Homo sapiens: one gene and its partners. The protein of the gene in region 4 purifies or fractionates together with the protein of the main gene of each other region. This does not show direct contact. Each region holds a gene or a part of one and is shown on either strand. Other genes may lie near its edges. The genes, in order: GSK3B, RAI14, PPP1R2, PPP1CB, YLPM1, CCDC85C and PPP1R12C.

Region 1 (2,313 bases), on a different chromosome or scaffold from region 4:
GCATGAGAAGAATGTTTCCCCCACACCCAGTTAAGAGTTTTTGTGTCTGTTTTCTTTGTGTATCAGTGAACGATGTTAAGAATCAGTCTCTCTTTTTGAAGAAAAAGCAATATTCCTTGGAAAGCAAGGAGAATTGAAGGACTATGTTTGCCGTGAGGAAATAGATTTTCATGACTAGTTTGTTTTATACTTTTAAGGTTGGCATCTATGTGGGCCTTATATACTCTAAAATGAACTTTAGTCACCTTGGTGCTTATGGGCCATTACTTGACCTATGAATCTTTAAGGCACAATCAGTTGTACTTTACATTTAAAGATCACTTGAGTGATGGCCGCCTTTCCCTCCTACCCGCTCCTTCCCCACATGCCTTCCAAGGTTAGCTGGTAACTGTAGGGCTGCAGAGCTGAGCCCATGGTTGTGTGTAACTTGCCCTCACCCTCCTCATTGCCACCTTAGGTCACTTTATGGGTCTCGTCCTCCAGAGGGTTCGGAAGTGGAGTCTGTTGGCAGCCCTCCTGCAGGCCCTAGCACCCTGTCCTGCTCCTTAACTGTGTGTGTGACTCTCCAAGAGAGTTGTCCTGCCTGCTGAAGTGAACCAGTACCCAGAAAGACAACTGTGAGCCATCTTGGTTTTCACTCGCTGTTTAGCTGAGGTCTTGGGCCACAAAAGGGGTTTCACAAACCTCTGGATATATCAGAGTTTATGAGAAAGGAAACATGCTCAGTCAAACCAAATCAAACAAATTGAATTTTATGTTTTATAAAGTGCTTCTGAAAGCTAAGATTTGAAAGAAGTCTGAAATCAAAGTATTTGGCAGCATAACTCCTTAAAGGTAGTGGCGTTGATAGACCATTTTCAGACAGAATTTATAAAGAATCTGAAAAGGCAGGTCTGTGATAGAGAAATGGACCTGCATTCAGATCCAACTGCCCAGCAAGCGTTTGGATGCAGACACTGCTCTGGACGTGGTATACTCCCCAGAGTCCATAAAAATCAGTGCTTATTTTAGGAAACAGGTTGCCCCCCACAACTGGGGTAAAAGAAGAGAGAAAAGTCACGCTTTTCTCTCATTTCATTGTGTGTGCATGTGTGCGTGTGTGTGTGTGTGTGTGTGTGCTGAGATGTGTGATTTTTCTTTCTCAAGGATCATGGTGGGATCACAGAACTCTTTTATACAAGTGAGATCCAGGTCTCTGAATATCTTTTTGTATATAATAATAATAAAAAGCTCCTCACCAAATTCAAGCTTGTACATTATATTTTCTTTCTGTGTTTTTAAATTTAAGTTTTATTGTTTTGTATGTAAATATGTGGACCCAGGAACTGTTATTAATGAGCAAAAAGTTACTGTTCAGGGCAGTGATTCTGTTTAATAATCAGACAAAATGTAGACGAGCTTTTTAAAGCCATATAGTTTTAACTCTGTACAGTAGGTACCGGCCTGTATTATTGTAACAATAACTCTAGCAATGTATAGTGTATCTATATAGTTTGGAGTGCCTTCGCTTCCATGTGTTTTTTTTTTTAATTTGTTCTTTTTTAAATTTTAATTGGTTTCCTTTATCCATGTCTCCCTGTCCACCCCCTTTCCCTTTGAAATAATAACTCACTCATAACAGTATCTTTGCCCCTTCCACAGTTAAGTTTCAGTGATACCATACTCAGGAGTGGGAAGAGGAAATCATATTCGTAATTTCATTTCGTTGAAGCCCTGCCTTTGTTTTGGTTCTGAATGTCTTTCCTCCTCGGTAGCAGTGAGACCGGTTTCATTTCATACTTAGTCCATTCAGGGACTTAGTGTAGCACCAGGGAGCCCTAGAGCTGGAGGATATCGAATAGATTAAATTTTGCTCGTCTCTTCCACAAGCCCTAACCATGGGTCTTAAAAACAGCAGATTCTGGGAGCCTTCCATGCTCTCTCTCTCTCCTCTTTTATCTACTTCCCTCCCAAATGAGAGAGTGACAGAGAATTGTTTTTTTATAAATCGAAGTTTCTTAATAGTATCAGGTTTTGATACGTCAGTGGTCTAAAATGCTATAGTGCAATTACTAGCAGTTACTGCACGGAGTGCCACCGTGCCAATAGAGGACTGTTGTTTTAACAAGGGAACTCTTAGCCCATTTCCTCCCTCCCGCCATCTCTACCCTTGCTCAATGAAATATCATTTTAATTTCTTTTAAAAAAAATCAGTTTAATTCTTACTGTGTGCCCAACACGAAGGCCTTTTTTGAAAGAAAAATAGAATGTTTTGCCTCAAAGTAGTCCATATAAAATGTCTTGAATAGAAGAAAAAACTACCAAACCAAAGGT
Region 2 (3,500 bases), on a different chromosome or scaffold from region 4:
AGAAGTTATCCAAGTGCAGAAAGAAAGTAGTAAAATTTCTATTTAGACTTATTTTTAAAAATCAAGAAATTAAGCTTTATTTGTAATTACATTGATGGTAGAAAACATGTATAGCCGTAGAAATAAATATACCTATATAGGAAATATATGCTGCAAAATGTTTTACTAATGTTTTAGAAGCTAATTAACCTTCTTCCCAGTTTAGAAAAAAAAAAAAAAGTGCAGCTCTCTGCCAGAGCTCATTTAATTTTATATAAACACACTCTTTGAGGCTGAAGAAAATCTGACTGATTTTCAATGTGAAAATAAAATATAAAAACTGTTCTTGGAGTTATTTCTAAACAGAACTAACACCAGAATCATCTGTCTCAGAAAAATCGGATTCATCAAATGAATCTTCAGCCAAGATCTCTTTGAGAACGATATTAACATCACACATAGGAATGCTACGTTTTCTAGGATTTGACATTTTCAGTGGTCGAGAATTACTACATTTTGTAAATGGAAATACCACTACTAAAAACAGAATGCTATAAACAGAATGATGTCTTTTGTTTCCAAAGTCAATACACTAGAGTGATGGGAAAATAATAATAATAAAAATGAGATATTTCGTGGCAAAGTTATCTTGAGGTAAATGCTGTATCCCCAAACGCCACTGGTGAGTATTCTTGGAGCAAATGGGAAAAGGGTTAAGAGTAATACATAAATCCATTTTGCAGAAGAGAATCTAGGTTGAAAAGCAATAGAATTTGCCCAATACTTAGTTGTCTAAAACAGGAGTACCCAACCCAGGGGCTGCAGATCAGTACCAGTCTGTGGCCTGTTAGGATCTGGCTGCACAGCGGGGAGTAAGTGGCAGGCGAGTGAGCAGTACTGCCTATAAGATCAGCAGCAGTACTGGATTCTCATAGGAGCACAAACCCTATTGTGAACTGAGCACGTGAGGGATCTAGGTTGTGCACTCCAATGCCTGATGACCTGAGCTGCAGTAGTTTCATCCTGAAACCATCCCCACCCCCATCCATGGAAAAATTATCTTCCTCAAAATCAGCCCCTGATGCCAAAAAGGTTGGAGACTGCTAGTCTAAAGTCTCAGTGACTCTAGAGGTATCCCATTGAGCTCTAGAAACCAATGTCTACCTCTGCCTCTAGTGACCACCTGGTACTTACCAAATCTTTGAGGTTTATGGGGCTCTTGTGTTCGCAGAGAATCTGCACAGCTTGAAGGCAGCCCTGAGCCGCTGGGGGAAGGAAAATATAAATACCACAGCCAATCACACAGTTATTCACAACCAGGGGTATCAGATACTTCAGGAAGGAAATGTTCATGTTCTACCCACTCTACATATATTCACTCTAGTTGCATTGAAGAGAAATGGTATTAGGAAGGTTAGGAGTGAGGTGTTTAAAATTACTGCTTAATTTCAGAGTTATGCAGGCCTAAAGCCAATGACTGCCAGTTGCCTTTAGGCAAATATTTGGCTCAGGTTTTCACAGGACTTAGCTTTTCCACAACTAGCAATAAAACACATGTGTAAATCTAATCACTCATAGTTCAGTGTCAACGTTTGTCACTTCAAGTTGTGTAATCATACTAAACAAAATATTAGTAAATAAAATTGACTGATGTTCATAATAATCCTCAAATCAAAAAGTCTGTATCACACATTACCTGAAATCTACAAATGCTTAGAATATCTCTTAGTTTAAAAAGAAACCTTAAATTAGTTAAAATATATTAATCGTGATAATTTTCAGTGGTTAGGTGGCAAAGGAATTGATGAATTCTAGGCATATGCCTCGGTAAAACTGTGTATGTTTTACAAACAGAGTAAAATGGGAATGTTTAGAAATGATGACAGAAAAGAGCACCAGGAATAGTATGGAAGGTTAATGGCCTGAATAAGGAAAAAGAAAAGTTGGTGTTTCTAATGGCAGAAGAAGACAAATAGGAGAATGAAAGTTACCTGCATAATGTAAAGCTGTTTTCCCAGAGCTGTCGACACTTTCGGCTGGGCATTTAGACTATAAGACAAAAATAAATACATCCATATAATAAAATACCCTGCCCCAATTCTATTCAGTTCAGACTTTTCCTGCAAGGTATGATGTGACTTATTAGGAAGACTATTAACATAAATAAGCCCCAGCTGCTGTGTTCCAGGGGCCTACAGTCTCCTATGGGGAAGGAGACTCATGTCTTTGGGATGGGCAAACTCTCCCCTCTTTGCTGCTTCACCTATCTGTTCCTCTCCTTCCCTCATCACTCCAGCACCCCACCAGCTAATAGACATACTCTAGGCTCTCTCATCTTAATCCTTTCTTTTCCCCCATCTCCTGCCCTTTCTGTCCCCCTTCACGAAACCAGCTTTCTCTTAAGGATTACCCACATGCAGTCCACGCACCCTCACCTCCATTCACTCCCAAAACCACTGCAGTTGGGTGTCCCCTCTCGAGTCCAAGGAGATGGCCTTGGTCAAGGTCACCAAAAACCTTCATGTTTCCAATGACGATAAACATTTCTGTCCTCCTCTCTCCAACCTCTCAGCTCCTAGAGCCCTGCTTGGCTCATCTTATTCTGCTTTTCCTCTTGCGGCTCCTCCTCTAGCCAAACAGAAAACCTCAGGGCTCCTCAGTGTTCTTCCTCTAAGCTCTTTTCCCTGGTAAGCTCCTCCACACCCACAACCTGAAATATCATCTAGAAGAATGAACGCTAGTGACTCCCAAATGCGGAGGTCCTAACAGTGACAACAATAAGTGCTATGTAAGTATTAGCTCTCACGTGCCAGGCACTGTTCAAAGAACTGCTTTATGTCCCCTAACAACACGAGGTGGATACTATCATTACTTCCACTTTCAGATGAAGAAACGGAGGCACAAAAAAGTTGATAATTTGCTCAAGTCGCAGTAAATGGCAGAGCCAAGATTCAAACTCAGACAGGCTGGGCTAGGGCCTGTATTCTTACTCATACACAAAAGTTGTCATCTTCAAGCGCTAGGCTTGATAACCCACTGCCTACTTCACATCTCTGCTCTGATGTCTTATTAGCATCTCAAAGGCCCAGCCAAAATCTCTGGCTTCCCCTCCCCCGTGCCCCACCTGCTCCTCCCTGACTGCCTTCTCCATCAACAGCATCATCATCAGTCTAGACATTGAGCCAGAAACCAGCGATTCAGCTTTGATTCCTCCTCATCCTCCACCCCCTTCCCCGACCCCTCTTCCTCACCCCACATGTAGTGGACCACCATGCCCTGTCAACTTTTTTCTCCAAAACTCGCCTCCACTCTACCCTCTTCCCTTTCTTGTTCCCGACACCCTTTTCTAGGACAGCGTCTTCTCACCTGAACAGCTAAGGTAGCCTCCTGGCACGTCTCCCCAGTTCTGCATTTTTCCCCTTTTTATCAATTCTCTAAAGAAACAGAATTCTCTTTTAAAACTGTGACTCTCACTGTCTACTTAAAAGCCCCTCACACTTCCATGCTGTACTTAGGATGAA
Region 3 (3,500 bases), on a different chromosome or scaffold from region 4:
AGGAATTGGAGATGAGCCTGGGCAACATAGAGAGACCCCGTCTCTACAAAAAATAAAAAGAATTAAGCCAGGAATGGTAGCACATGCCTGTAGTCCCAGCTACACAAGAGGCTTAGGTGGGAGTATCACTTGAGCCCGGGAAATTGAGGCTGTAGTGAGCCGTGATGGTGCCACTGTACTCCTGGGTGACAGAATGAGACCCTGTCTCAAAAAAAAAAAAAATTTTATTTAAGTGAAGATGCTTTTTATAGAAACATCATGTCTTATTATCTAAGAATCTCACAGTTAGTATACAAGAAGTTATTGCTTCTGTATACATGTACATATATAAACATAATTCAGTAAATTTTACAACTAGAATTTTCTATAGAACGATTCTATAAATTAACAAAATGTTTATTTTACCTTACTTTGCTTGATTAAACTCAATAACATAGATCAATTTCAACTTCCCTTAGAAAAAAGAACGTCATCTAAACTATAGACTTACTTGTCACCTTAATTAACCAGGAAATGTATAAACTGGCAGTATTTTATAAATAGCTGAGTTCTGCTTTATATACTTTGCAGTGGCTTAAGAATTAAGGTTGCCCATTTTTGCATTGAAGTGGGGAGCAAATTTTTCATTAGAGGGTAGAGTGAGAAAGCTAAATCACTTGTAAACTTCCGAAATTAGATCTTTGGGATCGAATTTTGTTACTTTACTCAGTCTTGTGTCTGCGTAGATCTTTTGTCTCTATCTTAAGATTGATGTAGAAATACATGTTCTAAAACCAGACAGTGATTTACTTTGCATTACTTGTTCCTTCCCACTGGATGGAATAATTGGAACTTTGTAGTATTTTTTTTTCCAGATCATTTACGTTTTCAGTACAGTTATTCCTCATTATCCATGGAGGTTTCAGGACCTCCCTCAGATACCGAAATCCTCAGACACTCAAGTCTCTGATATAAAATGGCATTGTAGATGTATATAATTATGCACATCCTCCTGTATGTGTTAAATCATCTCTGTGTTAGTTATATTACCTAATAAAATGTAAATACTGTGCAAATAGTTGTTACACACTGTATCATTTAGGGAATAATGATAAGAAAAAAGTCTACATGTTTAGTACAGAGGAAATTTTACTTTTCTCTGGCTATTTTCAATCCACGGTTGAATTCATGGATGTGGATCCTGTGGATATGGCAGGCAGACTGTATTTATGTGTTTTTTTTAATCATTTGGAGTCTTTTCTTGATTGGGTGCTGTACTTTTAAGTATTTGTATTGAATAGGAACTATATAAAGTTAAACCTCAAAGATATCAACAGAGCTATAAATATATTGATATGTTAAGTAGGTTGATGGAATTGTTTTTCTCCCTTGTTTTTGTGGCTGAAAATGTATGTTTCAGGTATTAATTACAATGTGCTTGTCATACTAGTATGATGGGGGATGATGAAGATGCCTGTAGTGACACCGAGGCCACTGAAGCCATGGCGCCAGACATCTTAGCCAGGAAGTAAGTACTAATGACCGGAGCACATTTTCACTTAGGCTGTTTATAATCGTGCAGAGTTGAAAGCAGCCTGCGTGGCTGTCCCTGTATGAGCGGGAAGAAAAGGCTGTTGATCAACATGTTTTATGCCGACTTTTTTTTCCTTTTTTCCCCCTTTTTTCACCTTCTGAGTCACCAACTTTTATAGTCTTGTCTCTTGATTAAAATCAAGGTATGTAGGTGGCAGGAAGACCAGCGTACCTGCACTTGGGATACTGAAATGTGTCACTTCCCTGTGGGGGGTTTTATTTGTTTTCTGAGACAGAGTCTCGCTCTGTCATTCAGGGTGGAGTGCAGTGGTGTGATCTCAACTCACTGCAACCTCCACCTCCCAAGTTCAAGCAATTCTCGTGCCTCAGCCTCCCCAGTAGTAGCTGGGATTACAGGCCCATGCCACCAAGCCTGGCTAATTTTTGTATTTTTAGTAGAGACAGTGTTTTGCCATATTGGCCAGGCTGGTCTCGAACTCTTGACCTCAAGAGATCCGCTGGTTTCAGCCTCCTAAAGTTCTGGGATTACAGGGGTGAACCACCGCGCCTGGCCCCTGCTTCCTGTTTTTAAAGGTAGCAGTGAGAAAGGCAAAAATAAGTTAATTCATAAAAGCACTCTTCCTTTGCTACTTACTGATTTCTAGCACCCATTCCACTGTTCTTGTCTATGCCCATTTCTACTCTTTTTATTCTTTTTTTTTTTTTGAGACAGGGCCTTGTTCTATCACTCAGGCTGGAGTGCAGAGGCGCAATCAAAGCTCATTGCAACCTCAAACTCCTGGGTTTAACTAGTGCTCCCACCTCGGCCTTCCAAATAGCTAGGACCACAGGCGTGTACCACCATGCCCGGCACGTTTCTGCTCTCTTGCCTTTTATTTTCCTCATCAGGTTATAGCTAGCACATTAATGATCTTCAGATGTTTTTGTAAGAATCAACAGTTGAATAAGGCGCTTAAATAATATCAAAACATCACTGTTAATTTCTTTGTACATGATTGTTGCATAGATTAGCTGCAGCTGAAGGCTTGGAGCCAAAGTATCGGATTCAGGAACAAGAAAGCAGTGGAGAGGAGGATAGTGACCTCTCACCTGAAGAACGAGGTAGTTTATTTCCTTTACTGCTTTCATCATGGTGCTAGTAATTTTTGCTAAGATAAATCCATTATTTGGAAGATGAGCAAATGGTTTTCATTTTGGGGACACACAGGGGAGGAGAATGAAAGCAACATCTTTATAATTCAGATACTACTTGTGTGTTTTGTTGTGTAATAGTTTTTTACCCCTGATTTCAAGAATATGGGGAAGTATTACCATCTTTAAAGTAATTATAAGTATTATTTTCTTTGTACTTTTTAGTGCAGAGTAGATACTCAGTAAATACTTTTTAAATTAATGCATTTCAAGTCATTGAGCGTTTGGACGGTCTTAAAGTGGGTAGCTGAAAGAGCTAATTTCCCAGTTGCTTATGCTTTTTGTGTTGTTGGACAGTGATGCAACTTAACAAATGAACCAAGATGATCAGATGCAGAGTGAAGGTCTTTATTAGGTCCCATCAATCAAAAGGAGCAGTAGTGTCACAGGAAGGGAGATGGAGACAGCCCTCCCCTTCACAGGGATGGAAGAGGGTCTCGTAGGCCATTCAGCACATACACATTTAAGGCATTGCTGCCTGCTCGTGCTTTCTGTTTCCACAAGTAAAAGTGGTTACCCGTGGAGGCTGGGAGAAAAGGAGTATGTCTTATCTTGTTGCATTTTATACTTTTTGATTCATGTGAATATATAATCTTCTCAGGAGTTAAAAAATTGTGTATAGTTTATTTGCAACTATTTTTAAAGGAAAATCCAAGCTTGTGGGTAGAGGGGAAAGATATAAGAAAAGCACATACTCACAAAAAAGAGGAAGAAGGAAAATATGGTAGAAACCTACTTGAAGTGTTGTGGCGTAGGGACTACCTCCTGTACCGTGA
Region 4 (3,500 bases):
GCCACTGCCTACAGTGACTTCTGTTTCACCTGGATAGTTTACTAGATAAACTAATTTTAAAAGAGCCTCTTCAGCCAAGTAAGCTGCAGTCAATCTGAAATATGACCAAGGAGATCTCAAGGAACCAATTTAATTAGTAACATGTTTCCCAGTTTCAGGTTCCTCTTCCTGGCCTATGCCTGACAGATCTTATTTTGAAAAAACTCTGAATCAAAGCAACTCTTCTGAACCAGAAAATTATTAGGCAATGTTTCCATGAATTACTTTTCTAAGTCTTTATTTTCACTTACATTCATCATAGAATCCATAAATGCGATTGATGCTAGCACACTCATGGTTTCCTCTTAAGAGAAAGAAGTTCTCTGGATATTTGATTTTATAAGCCAATAGCAAACAAATGGTTTCCAAAGACTGCTTTCCTCTGTCCACATAATCTCCTAAGAAAAGATAGTTGGCTTCTGGTGGGAAACCTCCATATTCAAATAATCTCAGTAAATCTGTATATTGTCCATGAATATCTCCTAAAAAGAGAAAGAGTCAGTTTTAGAAAAATTGGTTACTGTTATAAGCAGCTTCTATGAAATGATTCCCAATGTTCACATCCTGTGTAATCCTCCCCTACCCTTGAGTATGGGCTATATTTGGTGACTTACTTCTAATAAGCGAAAGTGAGATGGGCTGTCACTTCCAAGATTAAGTTACAAAAGACTGTGACTTTCATCTTGCTTGCACTCTCTCACCTTCTTCCATGCTCGCTGATGAAACCAGCTGTCTAATGAAGCATCCCACGTAGCAAAGAACTGAGGGAGGCCTCTGACCAACAGCTCATTTGGAACTGAGGCTCTTAGTCCATCAGTCTATAAGGAACTGAATCCTTTCACAGTTCAACCTTCAGATGACTGCAGCCCGAGATCACGCCTTAATTGGAGCCTTGTGAGAGACCCAGAGCCAGAGGACCCACTAAGCTGTTCCTGAATTCCTGACCCACAGAAATTGTGAGATGGTAAATTAATGTTGCTGTAAGCCACAAAGTTTTGGAATGATTTATTATACAACAATAGGTAACTAAAACAATTTTATTATCTGGTAGTTTAACTTACGTCACTTTTTAACACCAAATATGGAGACAAATAGTAAACCTTTAGAAATATGTAGTACAAATAACTTCCATTACCTTCAAGTTATTTCTATATTACATTTTAAAGAACACCTTCAAAGAATACTTTAATTCTAATAATTTTAAGATCACCTCTAAGTAACTACATTTGCTTAAGTTTATACAGGGGATTGATTAGTTCCCCCAAATTCTGAACTACTACCTCTTACTTGAAGGTGTGATATTCTAAGTTAACTGATCCATTCAACAAACATTTATTGGCCAGCTGCGGTGGCTCATGCCTATAATCCCAGCATTTTGGGAGGCCAAGACAGGTGGATCACCTGAGGTCAGGAATTCAGAACCAGCCTGGCCAACATGGAGAAACCCTGTCTCTACTAAAAATACAAAAAGTCAGCTAGACGTGGTGGCTCACACCTGTAATCCCAGCTACTCAGGAGTCTGAGGCAGGAGAACCACTTGAGCCCGGGAGGTGGAGGTTGCAGTGAGCCAAGATTGTGCCATTGTACTCCAGCCTGGGCAACAAGAGTGAAACTCTGTCTCAAAGAAAAACCAACCAAACAAACAAAAAACAAACATTTACTTAGCGAGTATCTCTTATTTGCTGGGCACTGTACAAAGGACTGTAAAAAAGTCACTGTAAAACTTAAAAGAATACAAGGTATAAAGTAGTATAATCTTCAAAACAAATTTAAATAACATCAAAGTTAGAAGACCACAGATATCGCCATATTGACCCTCTAAATTATACACCTATTTTTTTCTAACCAGTGTACTATGATGCCCTTTTCGTGACATCCTTGACAACACTAAACATCAATCTTTGGTATTTTTTTATAATCTGACTAGAGTTGGAGACTTGCTTTAAATTGCACATCACTGATTACTAAAAAAAGAAGCTGACGTCCTTATGTTTACTGGCCATTTGAATTTCTTCTAAGACCTTCCTCTTCCTATGTTATTTTTATACTGTATCGCCTTTCTCTTATTTATAAGAACTCTTTATATATTATAAATAGAACTCCTTTTATCTGTTGATATATAGCAAGTATTTTCATCTTGTCTGTAACTTGTCATTTTTATAAGTTTCAATTTTTATACACTTTTATTTAGTAAAGCCTACTGATCTGTTTTATACAAAAATTTCAAAAAATGTTTTCTCTAGATCTTAAACATGGGAGGAAAAACATGATTCAAAAGAGTTGTTTCCAACTTTACCCATTTACATACCACAAATTTTCAGCGGTGCTTCCAATTCCAAAAGAATAGGCTGGCTGAGAAAGATCTCCCGAGACTTGATACATAAGCCTCGAACTTCTGCTTCAGTCATCTGCACAATCTTTCCTGGACGACATCCTCGTACTGACAAACGATAAATAAAACAGTCAGTTTTCTAAAATTTACTCATAATAATCTTTCAAAAAGAGTCATGCCCATACTTTAAAAATCAGAAAAGTCACACAGGCAGCAAATTACCCTATTTGGTCCCATGGTTTAAAATAATGTTATTCTATGATCTCTGACTTCTATTTTCATTGTTACTGGTTCCTGATGATGCTCCTCAAGTCTGCTGTTGATGAAATGCAGTCCTGTTTTTTGCTGTCCTGTGACCAACCTGGGGCCTAGTAGCCAAAGAGACTTAAAAGATTTCAGGGCCGGGCACGGTGGCTCATGCCTGTAATCCCAGCACCTTGGGAGGTTGAGGTGGGTGGATCACCTGAGGTCGGGAGTTCAAAACCAGCTTGATCAACATGGAGAAACCCCATCTCTCCAAAAATACAAAATTAGCCAGGTGTGGTGGCGCATGCCTGTAATCCCAGCTAATTGGGAGGCTGAGTTAGGAGAATCGCTTGAACCCGGGGGCAGAGGTTGCAGTGAGCTGAGATCGCCCCATTGCACTCCAGCCTGGGCAACAAGAGCGAGACTCCGTCTCAAATAAAAAAAAAACAAACAAACAGAAAAAAAACAACAACAAAAAAAACACACACAAAAAAACATTTCAGAGCCCGCACCCTTTAAGGTCTGGCCTGCTTATCTCGCATCTAGTAGGATGTCAAAACAGCCTCATTAAGAACAATGTGCTATGAAGAAAGGGAGATTAAATAGTAATTGTCAGTAGGTGATTTAGCTTCACACACTTTCTTGGAATGTTACCAGCAGTCCCCAAAATTTTAGCAACTCCTATCTCTACTTTCTGATCAAAAGAAATACAAAAAAGATATCAGCTATGTATTAAAAATTAACTTATCGTTACATTCCCAATAGATCATTATATTAAAACCTCTAAAGGCTATTTAGATGGAGTGAGGCATCTTTGCATTACTGAGCCATAAGATAATATGGTTTCCAGTAACTTGTGGGATGAAGGGGAACAGAATGTTGC
Region 5 (3,500 bases), on a different chromosome or scaffold from region 4:
CGGCCTCTAATGAGCCCAAAGAACTGGGATTACAGGTGTGAGCACCCAGTCCTCCTACTTATTCTTTAGAGTTCATTTAAATATCACTTTACAGGCCCGGCGTGGCAGCTTACGCCTGTAATCCCAGCACTTTGGGAGGCCGTAGCAGGTGGATCACGAGGTCAGGAGTTCAAGACCAGCCTGGCCAAGATGGTGAAACCTCTTCTGTACTAAAAATACAAAAAAAAATGGCCGGGCACTCTGACTCACACCTGTAACCCCAGCACTTTGGGAGGCTGAGACAGGCAGATCACCTGGGGTCAGGAGTTCGAGACCAGCCTAGCCAACATGGTGAAACCTCGTCTCTACTAAAAATACAAAAATTAGCCAAGCGTGGTGGCAGGCGCCTGTAATCCCAGCTACTCCTGGGAGTAGCTGAGGCAGGCTGAGGCAGGAGAATTGTTTGAACCCGGGAGGCAGAGGTTGCAGTGAGCCGAGATCGTGCCATTGCACCCCAGCCTGGGCAACAAGAGTGAGACTTCGTCTCCAAAAAAAAAAAAAAAAAAAAAAAAAAAAAGATAAAAATACAAAAAAATTAGCCGGGCGTGGTGGCAGGCACCTGTAATCCCAGTTACTAGGGAGGCTGAGGCAGAAAATTGCTTAAACCCGGAAGGCGGAGGTTGCAGTGAGCCGAGATCGCGCCACTGCACTCCAGCCTGGGCAACAGAGCGAGACTCCATCTCAAAAAAATAAAAATAAATAAAATAAAATAAAAACAAATAAAAAATAAAAAATATCACTTTACAAAGGGAATCCTCTTTAATTAGGTTAGCGCTCCCAGCTATATTCAATTATTTAAAATATATTTGTTCTCCACCTCCTATGCGCTAGATCCTATGCAAGGTACTGTGAATACAGTGGTAACTTAAAAAAAAAACAAAAAACAAAAAACTTGCCTTTGCCAGTTCCTTGGGGAATAATCTAGTGATATTTTATAATCCCATAGCACTCTGTACGTCTCCTCTTAATTACTTACTAAATGTCTTCTCCCTTCCCCCACAACTGAAACAAGAAGTCAATGAGGGCAGGTCCCATGTCTATCTTGTTAACCATTTCATCTCCAGTATTAAGCACAGTACTCATAGTACCTGGCACATAGTTGCTAGTCCGTAAGTATTTAAACATTAAATAAATGATACCTCTAAAAACTAATCAAAGCCAACAGCTTTAACTAAATAAATCAGTCCTTTAAACACATAGAAAAATTAATTATTCAAAAAGACACATTCCGACCGGGCGCAGTGGCTCACGTCTATAATCCCAGCACTTTGGGAGGCCGAAGCAGGTGGATCACTTGAGGTCAGGAGTTCGAGACCAGCCTGACCAACATGGTGAAACCCCATCTCTATTAAAAATACAAAAACTAGCCAGGCATGGTAGCATGCACCTGTAATCCCATATACTTGGGAGGCTAGGGCAGAATTGTTTGAACCCAGGAAGTGGAAGTTGCAGTGAGCCGAGATTTCACCACTGCACTCCAGCCTGAGCGACAGAGTGAGACTCTCTCTCAGAAACAAACAAACAAAAAAACACATTCCATTAAATCATCAACACTTTACCCGAAAAACTAGAAAACACCTGGAAAAATATCAAGTATTTATCTTGTCCTTCCTATACCAACTGTATTTCCAATCAAATATCTGTGGCAAAAGTTTTTCTTTACATAACTCCATATAGTAACTGTGGAAGAAATGGCAGAAAAAAAAAATCACCAGGTTGCAACCTCTGTCTAATGAAATAATTTACTTAGGCAAGGTCTTTCTTCAATTGATGAACCAGTAGACTGAAACATTAGATGCAAGATTGATAGAAAGCTTTACAGTAGAGGGACCAATGGCATTACTAACAGTGGGACAACCAGGCATCGGGTGTCCCATGAGGAATGCAACACTTGCCAAAAGAAAGCTGAACTTAAATGAAGGTTCCAGAGTTAACTTCTAATTCAAAAAAAAAAAAAATGTGGAAGACATAGGAACAAGTCAAATGTGACACCATGAAAAAGCAGACAATGCAGAATGTCAGACATTCTACAGGAAAACTGACAACAGATTTTTCATCAAGTTCAAAGACATGAGGTAGAAAAAGAAAATAGGAGGGACTGACCTAGGTCAAGGGTTCTCAACAGAGGGTAATTTTGTCTCCAGGGGATACTTGGCAATGTGTGGAAACATTTTTGGTTGTCGGACTGGGGGCTGCCACTGGCATCTAATGGGTAGAGGTCAGGGACGCTGTTAAACATCCTACAATGCATAGGACAAGCCCCTCCACAACAAAGAATCATCCTGCCCAAAATGTCCATAGTGCCGAAGCTGAGAAACCCTGATCTATACTAAGAATCTTTTCAGTATTCTGTTTGGACTCTGACTTGAACACACCAAAAAAACATTGTTTGGGAACAGACTGTGAGGACAGAAAACAACAACACTGTTGAGTCAATTTGGGGTATTTTAACATGGATGGTATCAAAGAATTATTTTTAGTTCATTAGTATGATGAAACAATAAAGGAAATCTGAACGGATCAGGTATTAGATGATACCAAGAAACTGTTAACTTTGTTAGGTGTTAACAATGTGTTTATCTAAGAAAGGGTCTTGGCCGGGCACGGTGGCTCACGCCTGTAATCCCAGCACTTTGGGAGGCCAAGGCAGCTGGATCATGAGGTCAGGAGTTCAAGACCAGCCTGACCAACATGGTGAAACCCCGTCTCTACTAAAAATACAAAAATTAGCCAGGCGTGGTGGCATGCACTTGTAATCCCAGCTACTCAGGAGGCTGAGGCAGGAGAATCGCTTGAACCCGGGAGGCAGAGGTTGCAATGAGCCAAGATCGCGCCACTGCACTCCAGCCTGGGCAACAGTGTGAGACTCCATCTCAAAAAAAAAAAAAAAAAAGAAAAGGTCTTGGTTTTGTTTTGTTTTGTTTTATAGAGGTACTTGACTAAGAATGTAGGGATGAAATGACATAAGATCTAAGATTTGCTTTAAAATATTTCAGCAGAGGCCAGGTGTGGTGGTTCATGCCCATAATCCCAGCACTTTGAGAGGTCAAGGCAGTGTACTGTTTGAGCTCAGGAGTTCAAGACCAGCCTGGGCAACATAGCAAAACCCCGTCTCTACCAAAAAAAAAAAAAAAAAAAAATAGCCAGGCATGGTGGCATGCACCTGTAGTCCCAGCTACTTGGGATGGCTTGAGCCTGGGAGGCAGAGGTTGCAGTGAACTGAGACTATGCCACTACACTCCACCCTGGGTGACTGACAGAGCAAGACCCTGTCTCAATATATATATATGCAACAATAATAAAAAAGGCCTAGGTGAAGTAAACATGGCAAAATCTTGATAGCTGTTGAATCTCAATGATGGGTATGTATGGGGAATCATACTTTTTTCTCTATTTTGTGTATTTTAAAAATATTTCACGATAAGAAATTTTGAATGACACATTCCAAAAACAAAATATGA
Region 6 (3,500 bases), on a different chromosome or scaffold from region 4:
CAGGACAGCAAGCAGAGGAACCTCGAGTCCAGGAACATGCAGCCTTGTCCCCAGCAAACCTGCACCAGGAATTGAAGCTCAGTGTTCTCCTCTTGCACTAAACCCCTTACTGAGTCCTTTAAGCAGAGGCAATCAGATAGGGGAGGCAGGTACTTCCACTGGGGCCCTGCAGGAGGGGAGGCTGGTCTGGGCCAGGGTCTCAGCCTCAAACAGCGTTTAGACAGGTCACCATCTCTAGGCCCCACAGTGGGACCCATGTGGTCACAGGTAGCCTCACCATCCCCACACCTGCCCCAAGGCAAGGACCAACCACGAGGCAGGTGATAAAACCCAGGCTGTAGGGCATAGGAAGAGAATTCCCAGGAATATAAAAGAGCTGGCTCATAGGACCACTGAGTGACCGATAGGAGGCAGGATGGGCAGGGGAGGCCACCCCTTCCTTGTGGCTCTGAGTCAAAGGGCCAGAAGAGATGAGGGTCCCTGGGACTCTCAGCTCAGCCCATCCAAGCTTCCTATTTTACAGATGGGAAAATGAGGGCCCAGGGAGAGGCACAGACTTACACATGGTTGGGTCTCAAGTGGGCTGAAGCCACTGGTTCTGTCTGGATCGTCCAATCCACAGAACACTAGTAATCTTCCAAGACCCCCAGGCAGGGAGCATGTCAGCTGACAAGGCCACTCAGGCCCAGCAGGTGATGTGTCTGCATATTTATCAGGTGGGGAGCAGGGGAAAGATGGGGATAAGCTGTAAAAAGTTTCCAGTTTCTAATAGGACTTCTAACAGGTAACTCTGGGTCCTCTTGGAAAGTCCATCAGAAAAGGTTAGAGCTAGAACTGCCCACACCCCGAAGGAAAGCCCAACCTAGGGACTTCAGGGACAGTAGAAGAGGCTTCAAAGACCCCACCGGCCCTGGCCTTGCTCACTGCCCCAGTGCTTGTCCTGGGTCCCCACTCATCCATCACCCCAGCTGAACCCAAGGTGCAGGCAAATGCCCACCGCATGACTTTGCTCGGCTCTTCTTTTTGTTTTGGTTTCGTTTGGTTTTGGTTTTGGTTTGTTTTGTTTTGAGATGAGTCTTGCTCTGTGGCCCAGGCTGGAGTGCAGTGGCGCGATGGCTCACTGCAACCTCTGCCTCCTGGGTTCAAGAGATTCTCCTGCCTACCAAATAGCTGGCATTACAGGCGCGTGCCACCACACCTGGTTAATTTTTGTATTTTTAGTAGAGATGGGGTTTCACTATGTTGGCTAGGCTGGTCTTGAACTCCTGACCTCAGGTGATCCGCCCAGCTCAGCTGTTCTTTCTGCGAAGCCTGGTCTCTCTTCTTACCTGCTCTCTTCTGCTTTTACTAACTCCATCTTCAAGGCCCATCTCAGTTCCCAATTCGGCCACCCCTCCTCTGAGCTCCCAGCACACCTGAAGAGGTTAAGAGCCCAACCTGGGCATTTCCTTGAGGGAAAGGGGCATGATGAATAATCACACCCACAGGGCAAGGGAACCGGGACATACCGGCTGGCACAGGCTCCGGGTTCAACTGGACGGGAGTCCCTGACCTGGCCCAGCCCCACCCTGCCCCTGCTGTAACTTGCCTCACCATCCTGGGCCTGTTCCTTAGATGAAACAGGGACCCCAATGGGGACCAGCAACTGTTGTGGGAGGCGAGTGAGAGAAAACCCAGTTGCTGTCAGCACAGTGCCAGGCACACGTTTGTTCCATCCAAAAGACTTTCAGAACCTGCCACTCTGTGCCAAGGCTGGGAGTCAAGAGGACCAGAGTCCCAGGCTCATAAACTCCCAGATGAAGAGACAGTAATGACAGAGGGCCCCAGGTGGGCAGGGAGGGCTCCAGCACCCATGTGGCTGGCCCTGGGGTGGGCCCCTGTCTTTCTCAAGTCTCTTAGTGCCTTAGGACTCTGTGAAGTTTGCTCAGGGGTTTCCGGCTCTCCCGGGCCTGGCATTTGTTCCACTCTCAGATACCATCAGCCGCAGACACAGTCTACTCAAGGGCTTTTCCAGGGGCAGAGAGGGGAAGACCTGCCAGCAAATGTCCACATGGGTTCTAAGACACGCCCCATATTACAACTGGGAAGGGAAAATGCCCAGCTTTGAACTGAGGAAATGGCAGAATGTCTCTGCCGTTGAGGAATCAGGAAGAAGGAAAGGGAATCAGACCCTCGCTTCCTCCCCAGGGCCATCTACTGTAGTTAAACATGCTCCACGCCTCTGTTTGAACAGTACACATAAGGCAAACCCAAGAACACTTACAGGCAGTCAATACAATCCTGATCTTTCTGCTCTGCTCCCCTCAAGAGCTGGAGGTCAGCGGTGACCTGCTGAAGAACAGGCACCCATCCCCGGCTGACCCGGCTCCAGGCCTGCCCAGAACCCTCTGCCTGTGAGGACAGGGGATGTATGAGTGTCCAATCCTGGGTGCTTGCCTAGGGGAGGGGGACCATTTCTGACATGTTATGATCAAAGAAGCATCAAGTCCCTTTAGCAGACAAGTTTGTTCCTCTATCCCCAAGCCTTTGGGGATGCCAATAGAGTCTCTTGTTGTTATGTAGCAGGGAGATGAGAATTCTGAACCCCAGAGTGGTCCCTGCCTAGATCCCAGACGCTGATCCCAACCACCCTAGATGTAGGGATGGGAGTAGCGGGGAGCAGCATCAGCGCTGGGGATGGAGGGCACAGCAGCCACCTGGGAGCGGCAGCATCTCCCACAGGCGCTGTCCTGCCTGAGCCCCACCCAAGAGCTCAGGACGCCTGCCCTAGAGGACAGAGGTCATGAGAAGGCAGATAGCAGCTGAGAGCAGGACTTTGGAGCAGACTCACCAGGTCTGGAACCTACAGAAGGCTCTCTCCTGTGGCCACTCTCCTGGCCAGAACCTCCTCCCGATGGAAGCCCTCAGCTTCCACCCACTGCTCCCCCAGCCCAGCCCACACCACAGTGGTCACCAGAGTGATGCTCCAGAACCACCACCCCCCAAGCCAGACTCCAAGAATCACTGCTCAGGAGGCACTCAGACCTCAGAGGCAGTAAATGCTCAGTGAAGTCCGCAGACGCTTCCCTTCCTCCTGAAGAGCAAATTACCACCTGTGAGGTCAAGTCCCGCTTCCCACCTGGCTCTGGGTTCAACCAGATTGGATTGAACACACACATTCAAAGCTGGGCATTTTCCCTTCCCAGTTGTAATGTGGGGCGTGTCTTAGAACCCACATCTCAACCAGATTCCCAGAGCTGTCTGGGGTGTCCACAAGCCCCATCCTCAGTGGATTCAGGAATGCCCCTTCTCAGTGTCCACGCAACCTCCCCTGACACAGCGCTCCCCAGCCCTGGAGGCAACACAGGCCACCTGGGCCACTCTTGCTTGTGGGCACTGAAGTCTGAAAAGCTGGGACTTTGGGGTCTGCCCTGTGGGGCTGCCCACAGCACTAACCCCCCTAAGAGTTATCTCCCCACACACATCCTGGGTCCACCTTGCAGGCCCCGGATTCTCAATGC
Region 7 (3,500 bases), on a different chromosome or scaffold from region 4:
ACCCCAGCCCCTCCTCCCTCAGACCCAGGAGCCCAGGCCCCAGCCCCTCCTCCCTCAGACCCAGGAGCCCAGACCCCAGCCCCTCCTCCCTCAGACCCAGGAGCCCAGGCCCCAGCCCCTCCTCCCTCAGACCCAGGAGCCCAGACCCCAGCCCCTCCTCCCTCAGACCCAGGAGTCCAGGCCCCAGCCCCTCCTCCCTCAGACCCAGGAGTCCAGACCTCCAGCCCCTCCTCCCTCAGACCCAGGAGCCCAGACCCCAGCCCCTCCTCCCTCAGACCCAGGAGTCCAGGCCCCAGCCCCTCCTCCCTCAGACCCAGGAGCCCAGGCCCCAGCCCCTCCTCCCTCAGACCCAGGAGTCCAGGCCCCAGCCCCTCCTCCCTCAGACCCAGGAGTCCAGACCTCCAGCCCCTCCTCCCTCAGACCCAGGAGTCCAGGCCCCAGCCCCTCCTCCCTCAGACCCAGGAGCCCAGGCCCCAGCCCCTCCTCCCTCAGACCCAGGAGTCCAGGCCCCAGCCCCTCCTCCCTCAGACCCAGGAGTCCAGACCTCCAGCCCCTCCTCCCTCAGACCCAGGAGTCCAGGCCCCAGCCCCTCCTCCCTCAGACCCAGGAATCCAGGCCCCCAGCCCCTCCTCCCTCAGACCCAGGAGTCCAGGCCCCAGCCCCTCCTCCCTCAGACCCAGGAGTCCAGACCCCAGCCCACCCCACACCTGTGTGGACCTCCGAGACTGGCGCATGAGACGGGAGCGAGCTTTTCTCTGGGATTCCGACTCCTCATCCCGCACAGGCATCTGGTAGGACCTGAGGGAAGGGTCCCAACCTCAGACAGGGAACCTGGGGACCCTGTCCCATTCCGTGGCTGACACCCTCCGCGGGAAGCAAGTTCTGTGGGAGGGGACTCCAACTCCCAGCAGACCTGAGGCCAGCTCTCCCTCAGGAGCCCACCCAAAGCCCCGGGACTCCTGCTTCACATCGTCTCTCCCTGCTGGGGGCGGGGGCGGCAGCTTCCTGCCCTGGCCTCTTCACCTCCGTCGGTCCCGGGAGTCCGCTGGGGGCGCCGTGGAGGCTGTGGGGACGTTTGGCTTCGCTGGGGATTCAGGCTCCGGAATCCTGGAGGGAGGCGAGGAGTTCTCCAAGCAAGGAGGAGGCTTGGTGACCTCAGACCTGCATCAATTCATTCATTCCACAAACATTACCCAGGTGCATTGTGTGCCGGCACTGGAGATGCAGCCGTGAGTGAAAGAAACAAATTATCTGGGCCACAACAGAGTCAGAGCTGAGCAGAAATACACAAAACCCACAAAAGCCATGAAAAGACCAGCACACTACGCAACCGGTCAGAAGGATAAAGGACTCTGGACAGAAGCAGCAGTGCGAGAACTGAGAGCGGGAGGGTGTGCGTGTGCGGACGGCGCCGTGGTGGCAGCAGGGTGGTCAGTGTGCACCTCGGGGTGGGGGGAAGATAGGGGAGAAGGTGACGTTTCAACACAGACCTGAGGGAGGGAGAGAGCCCCCAAGAGGAACACAGCACAGGCTCTGGAGTGGCGGCAGGAACCAGACCCCAGGGGGTACATGGTCTCACTCAGGATCACACGGACAGGCTTGGAACCCACATCTGCCACCCACCCCTGAGGGGCCCAGGCCCTGGGGACTCACAGGACAGAGGGCTCCGGCAGCTTCGGGGAGGGGGTCGGGGTAATTCTGGCAAGACGGAGCTCCTTGGCCTGTGTGGAGAGGAGAAGGGGAGGAAGGGGCAGTTCCCTCGACTGGGCAGGGGCCTGGGCCTGGACCCGGCCCAACCCTCACTCACCTGAGTGGAGGTCCCTTCCAGCCAGGAGGAGGAAGCCGAGCGCTGCAGCCCAGCCCCAGGGGCTCCCTCCGCTGTCCGCCTTTCAGGGGGACCCAGGGCACCAGAACTCCCTGTCTTCAGGAGGCCAAAGCGCCTGGAGAAGGGGGCCTCTTCAAGCTGCTGGGAGAAGGAGGAGGTCTCAGTTAGAGAGAAAGGATCCCTCTTCTCAGACCTCAAGGGTTAGCCCCCAAAGGACTGCAACAAACTACAATTCCCATCAGCCCCCGGGGCAGGCACAGCCTAAAAAGGAAGCCGGTTGTCCAGGACGACTCTGGGAACTATAGTCTTCCCCCTATCTGCCCCTGCCAGAGGTTCACAGGCTGTATGGAATCCCACCTCCGGGCCCTCCCAGCCTCACAGGACCTCTCAGGGCATCCACTCACCACGGGACTCTTAGGGCTGGGGTGCGGCGGGGAGGAGACGCCATTGAGGGTTCTGGGTTCTGCAGGGGGTGGTTCTGTGATGTGGGAACACCGGGCAGGTCACAGAAGATGCCAGTTGCCTCTAGATTCAGAGAACCCGACCCCTCCTCCCTCGGACCCAGGAGTCCAGATTCAGGCCCCTCACCGGTGGGACCTTCTTCCCCCTCATCCTCGTCCTGGATGGGGGGCCCCCCAGCCCCACCAGGCCGGCGCTCCTTGGACAAGTCCTGGAGGGAAATCTTCTCGCGACTGCTCAGACGACACACAGAGCTCCTGTTGGGGAAGGAGAGGGTGCTGGGGTACAAGCCCGGGGCCTCCAGCCACCCCGCCAGCCCTGGACTCCTCCCTCCCTATACCTTCTGTGTTTGCTGCTAGAGGGCGCTTGGGGCTCCTGGCCCCGGCTCTGGGAAGCTTCTTTTTGGTTCCGAAGCTGCAAGGAGGGAAGGGGGCTGCAGGGGAGGGGTGGAGCACACGTGCCCCACAGCAACACCACCACAAACAGCTGTGCAGGAGCTCACTGCCCAGGCGGGCACCGAGGGCTCGTGGGCTTACTGGTTTTCCTACAGATGGCCACACACCTCAGGGGCAGGAGGTGCCCTGCGTCCAGCAGGCGCCCGCAGCTGCCACGTGCAGGCACTGCCGTCTTGTCCTCACGGCCCCCACCCATGAGAAGCCTCCAGTCTCATCCCCAGAGGGGTCCTTCTAGCTCCCAGGGGAGACCTGCTTAGACCTCACCCCGACCCCTCAGCATACCCAGGGCACTGGTGGGCCCTCAGCTGCCCCGGCTCCTGCAGCCGGCACTCGCCTCCTCCTTCCCCGCGCAGTTCACCACCGTCTTCACACCTTCCCCGCAGTTCACCACCGTCTTCGCCCCTTCCCCGCGCAGTTCACCACCGTCTTCACCCCTTCCCCGCGCAGTTCACCACCGTCTTCGCCCCTTCCCCGCGCAGTTCACCACCGTCTTCGCCCCTTCCCCGCAGTTCACCACCGTCTTCGCCCCTTCCCCGCAGTTCACCACCGTCTTCGCCCCTTCCCTGCAGTTCACCACTGTCTTCGCCCCTTCCCCGCGCAGTTCACCACCGTCTTCGCCCCTTCCCCGCGCAGTTCACCACCGTCTTCGCCCCTTCTCCGCGCAGTTCACCACCGTCTTCACCCCTTCCCCGCAGTTCACCACCGTCTTCACCCCTACCCCGCGCAGTTCGCAGTTCACCACCGTCTTCACCCCTTCCCCA

The links.
Region 1: the proteins of PPP1CB (region 4) and GSK3B purify together in Homo sapiens (affinity purification with mass spectrometry; 3 studies listed by BioGRID and IntAct, with this or other methods). This does not show direct contact.
Region 2: the proteins of PPP1CB (region 4) and RAI14 purify together in Homo sapiens (affinity purification with mass spectrometry; 3 studies listed by BioGRID and IntAct, with this or other methods). This does not show direct contact.
Region 3: the proteins of PPP1CB (region 4) and PPP1R2 purify together in Homo sapiens (affinity purification with mass spectrometry; 4 studies listed by BioGRID and IntAct, with this or other methods). This does not show direct contact.
Region 5: the proteins of PPP1CB (region 4) and YLPM1 purify together in Homo sapiens (affinity purification with mass spectrometry; 3 studies listed by BioGRID and IntAct, with this or other methods). This does not show direct contact.
Region 6: the proteins of PPP1CB (region 4) and CCDC85C purify together in Homo sapiens (affinity purification with mass spectrometry; 3 studies listed by BioGRID and IntAct, with this or other methods). This does not show direct contact.
Region 7: the proteins of PPP1CB (region 4) and PPP1R12C purify together in Homo sapiens (affinity purification with mass spectrometry; 3 studies listed by BioGRID and IntAct, with this or other methods). This does not show direct contact.

Annotation. Positions count from the first base shown.
Region 1 is NC_000003.12:119,823,135-119,825,447, reverse strand, and holds part of GSK3B (glycogen synthase kinase-3 beta), read left to right. Parts: 3' UTR 1-2,313. UniProt on the Homo sapiens protein: Constitutively active protein kinase that acts as a negative regulator in the hormonal control of glucose homeostasis, Wnt signaling and regulation of transcription factors and microtubules, by phosphorylating and inactivating glycogen synthase (GYS1 or GYS2), EIF2B, CTNNB1/beta-catenin, APC, AXIN1, DPYSL2/CRMP2, JUN, NFATC1/NFATC, MAPT/TAU and MACF1.
Region 2 is NC_000005.10:34,806,328-34,809,827, reverse strand, and holds part of RAI14 (ankycorbin), read right to left. Parts: intron 3,365-3,500; exon of another isoform or gene 3,346-3,364; intron 2,029-3,345; coding exon 1,971-2,028; intron 1,245-1,970; coding exon 1,174-1,244; intron 1-1,173. UniProt on the Homo sapiens protein: Plays a role in actin regulation at the ectoplasmic specialization, a type of cell junction specific to testis. Important for establishment of sperm polarity and normal spermatid adhesion.
Region 3 is NC_000003.12:195,522,826-195,526,325, reverse strand, and holds part of PPP1R2 (protein phosphatase inhibitor 2), read left to right. Parts: intron 1-1,429; coding exon 1,430-1,507; intron 1,508-2,539; coding exon 2,540-2,634; coding exon of another isoform or gene 2,635-2,637; intron 2,638-3,500. UniProt on the Homo sapiens protein: Inhibitor of protein-phosphatase 1.
Region 4 is NC_000002.12:28,775,830-28,779,329, reverse strand, and holds part of PPP1CB (serine/threonine-protein phosphatase PP1-beta catalytic subunit), read right to left. Parts: intron 2,480-3,500; coding exon 2,348-2,479; intron 522-2,347; coding exon 291-521; intron 1-290. UniProt on the Homo sapiens protein: Protein phosphatase that associates with over 200 regulatory proteins to form highly specific holoenzymes which dephosphorylate hundreds of biological targets.
Region 5 is NC_000014.9:74,766,316-74,769,815, reverse strand, and holds part of YLPM1 (YLP motif-containing protein 1), read right to left. Parts: intron 1-3,500. UniProt on the Homo sapiens protein: Plays a role in the reduction of telomerase activity during differentiation of embryonic stem cells by binding to the core promoter of TERT and controlling its down-regulation.
Region 6 is NC_000014.9:99,594,208-99,597,707, forward strand, and holds part of CCDC85C (coiled-coil domain-containing protein 85C), read right to left. Parts: intron 1-3,500. UniProt on the Homo sapiens protein: May play a role in cell-cell adhesion and epithelium development through its interaction with proteins of the beta-catenin family. May play an important role in cortical development, especially in the maintenance of radial glia.
Region 7 is NC_000019.10:55,093,638-55,097,137, forward strand, and holds part of PPP1R12C (protein phosphatase 1 regulatory subunit 12C), read right to left. Parts: intron 2,699-3,500; coding exon 2,625-2,698; intron 2,542-2,624; coding exon 2,414-2,541; intron 2,304-2,413; coding exon 2,230-2,303; intron 1,967-2,229; coding exon 1,808-1,966; intron 1,722-1,807; coding exon 1,654-1,721; intron 1,162-1,653; coding exon 1,024-1,161; intron 799-1,023; coding exon 708-798; intron 1-707. UniProt on the Homo sapiens protein: Regulates myosin phosphatase activity.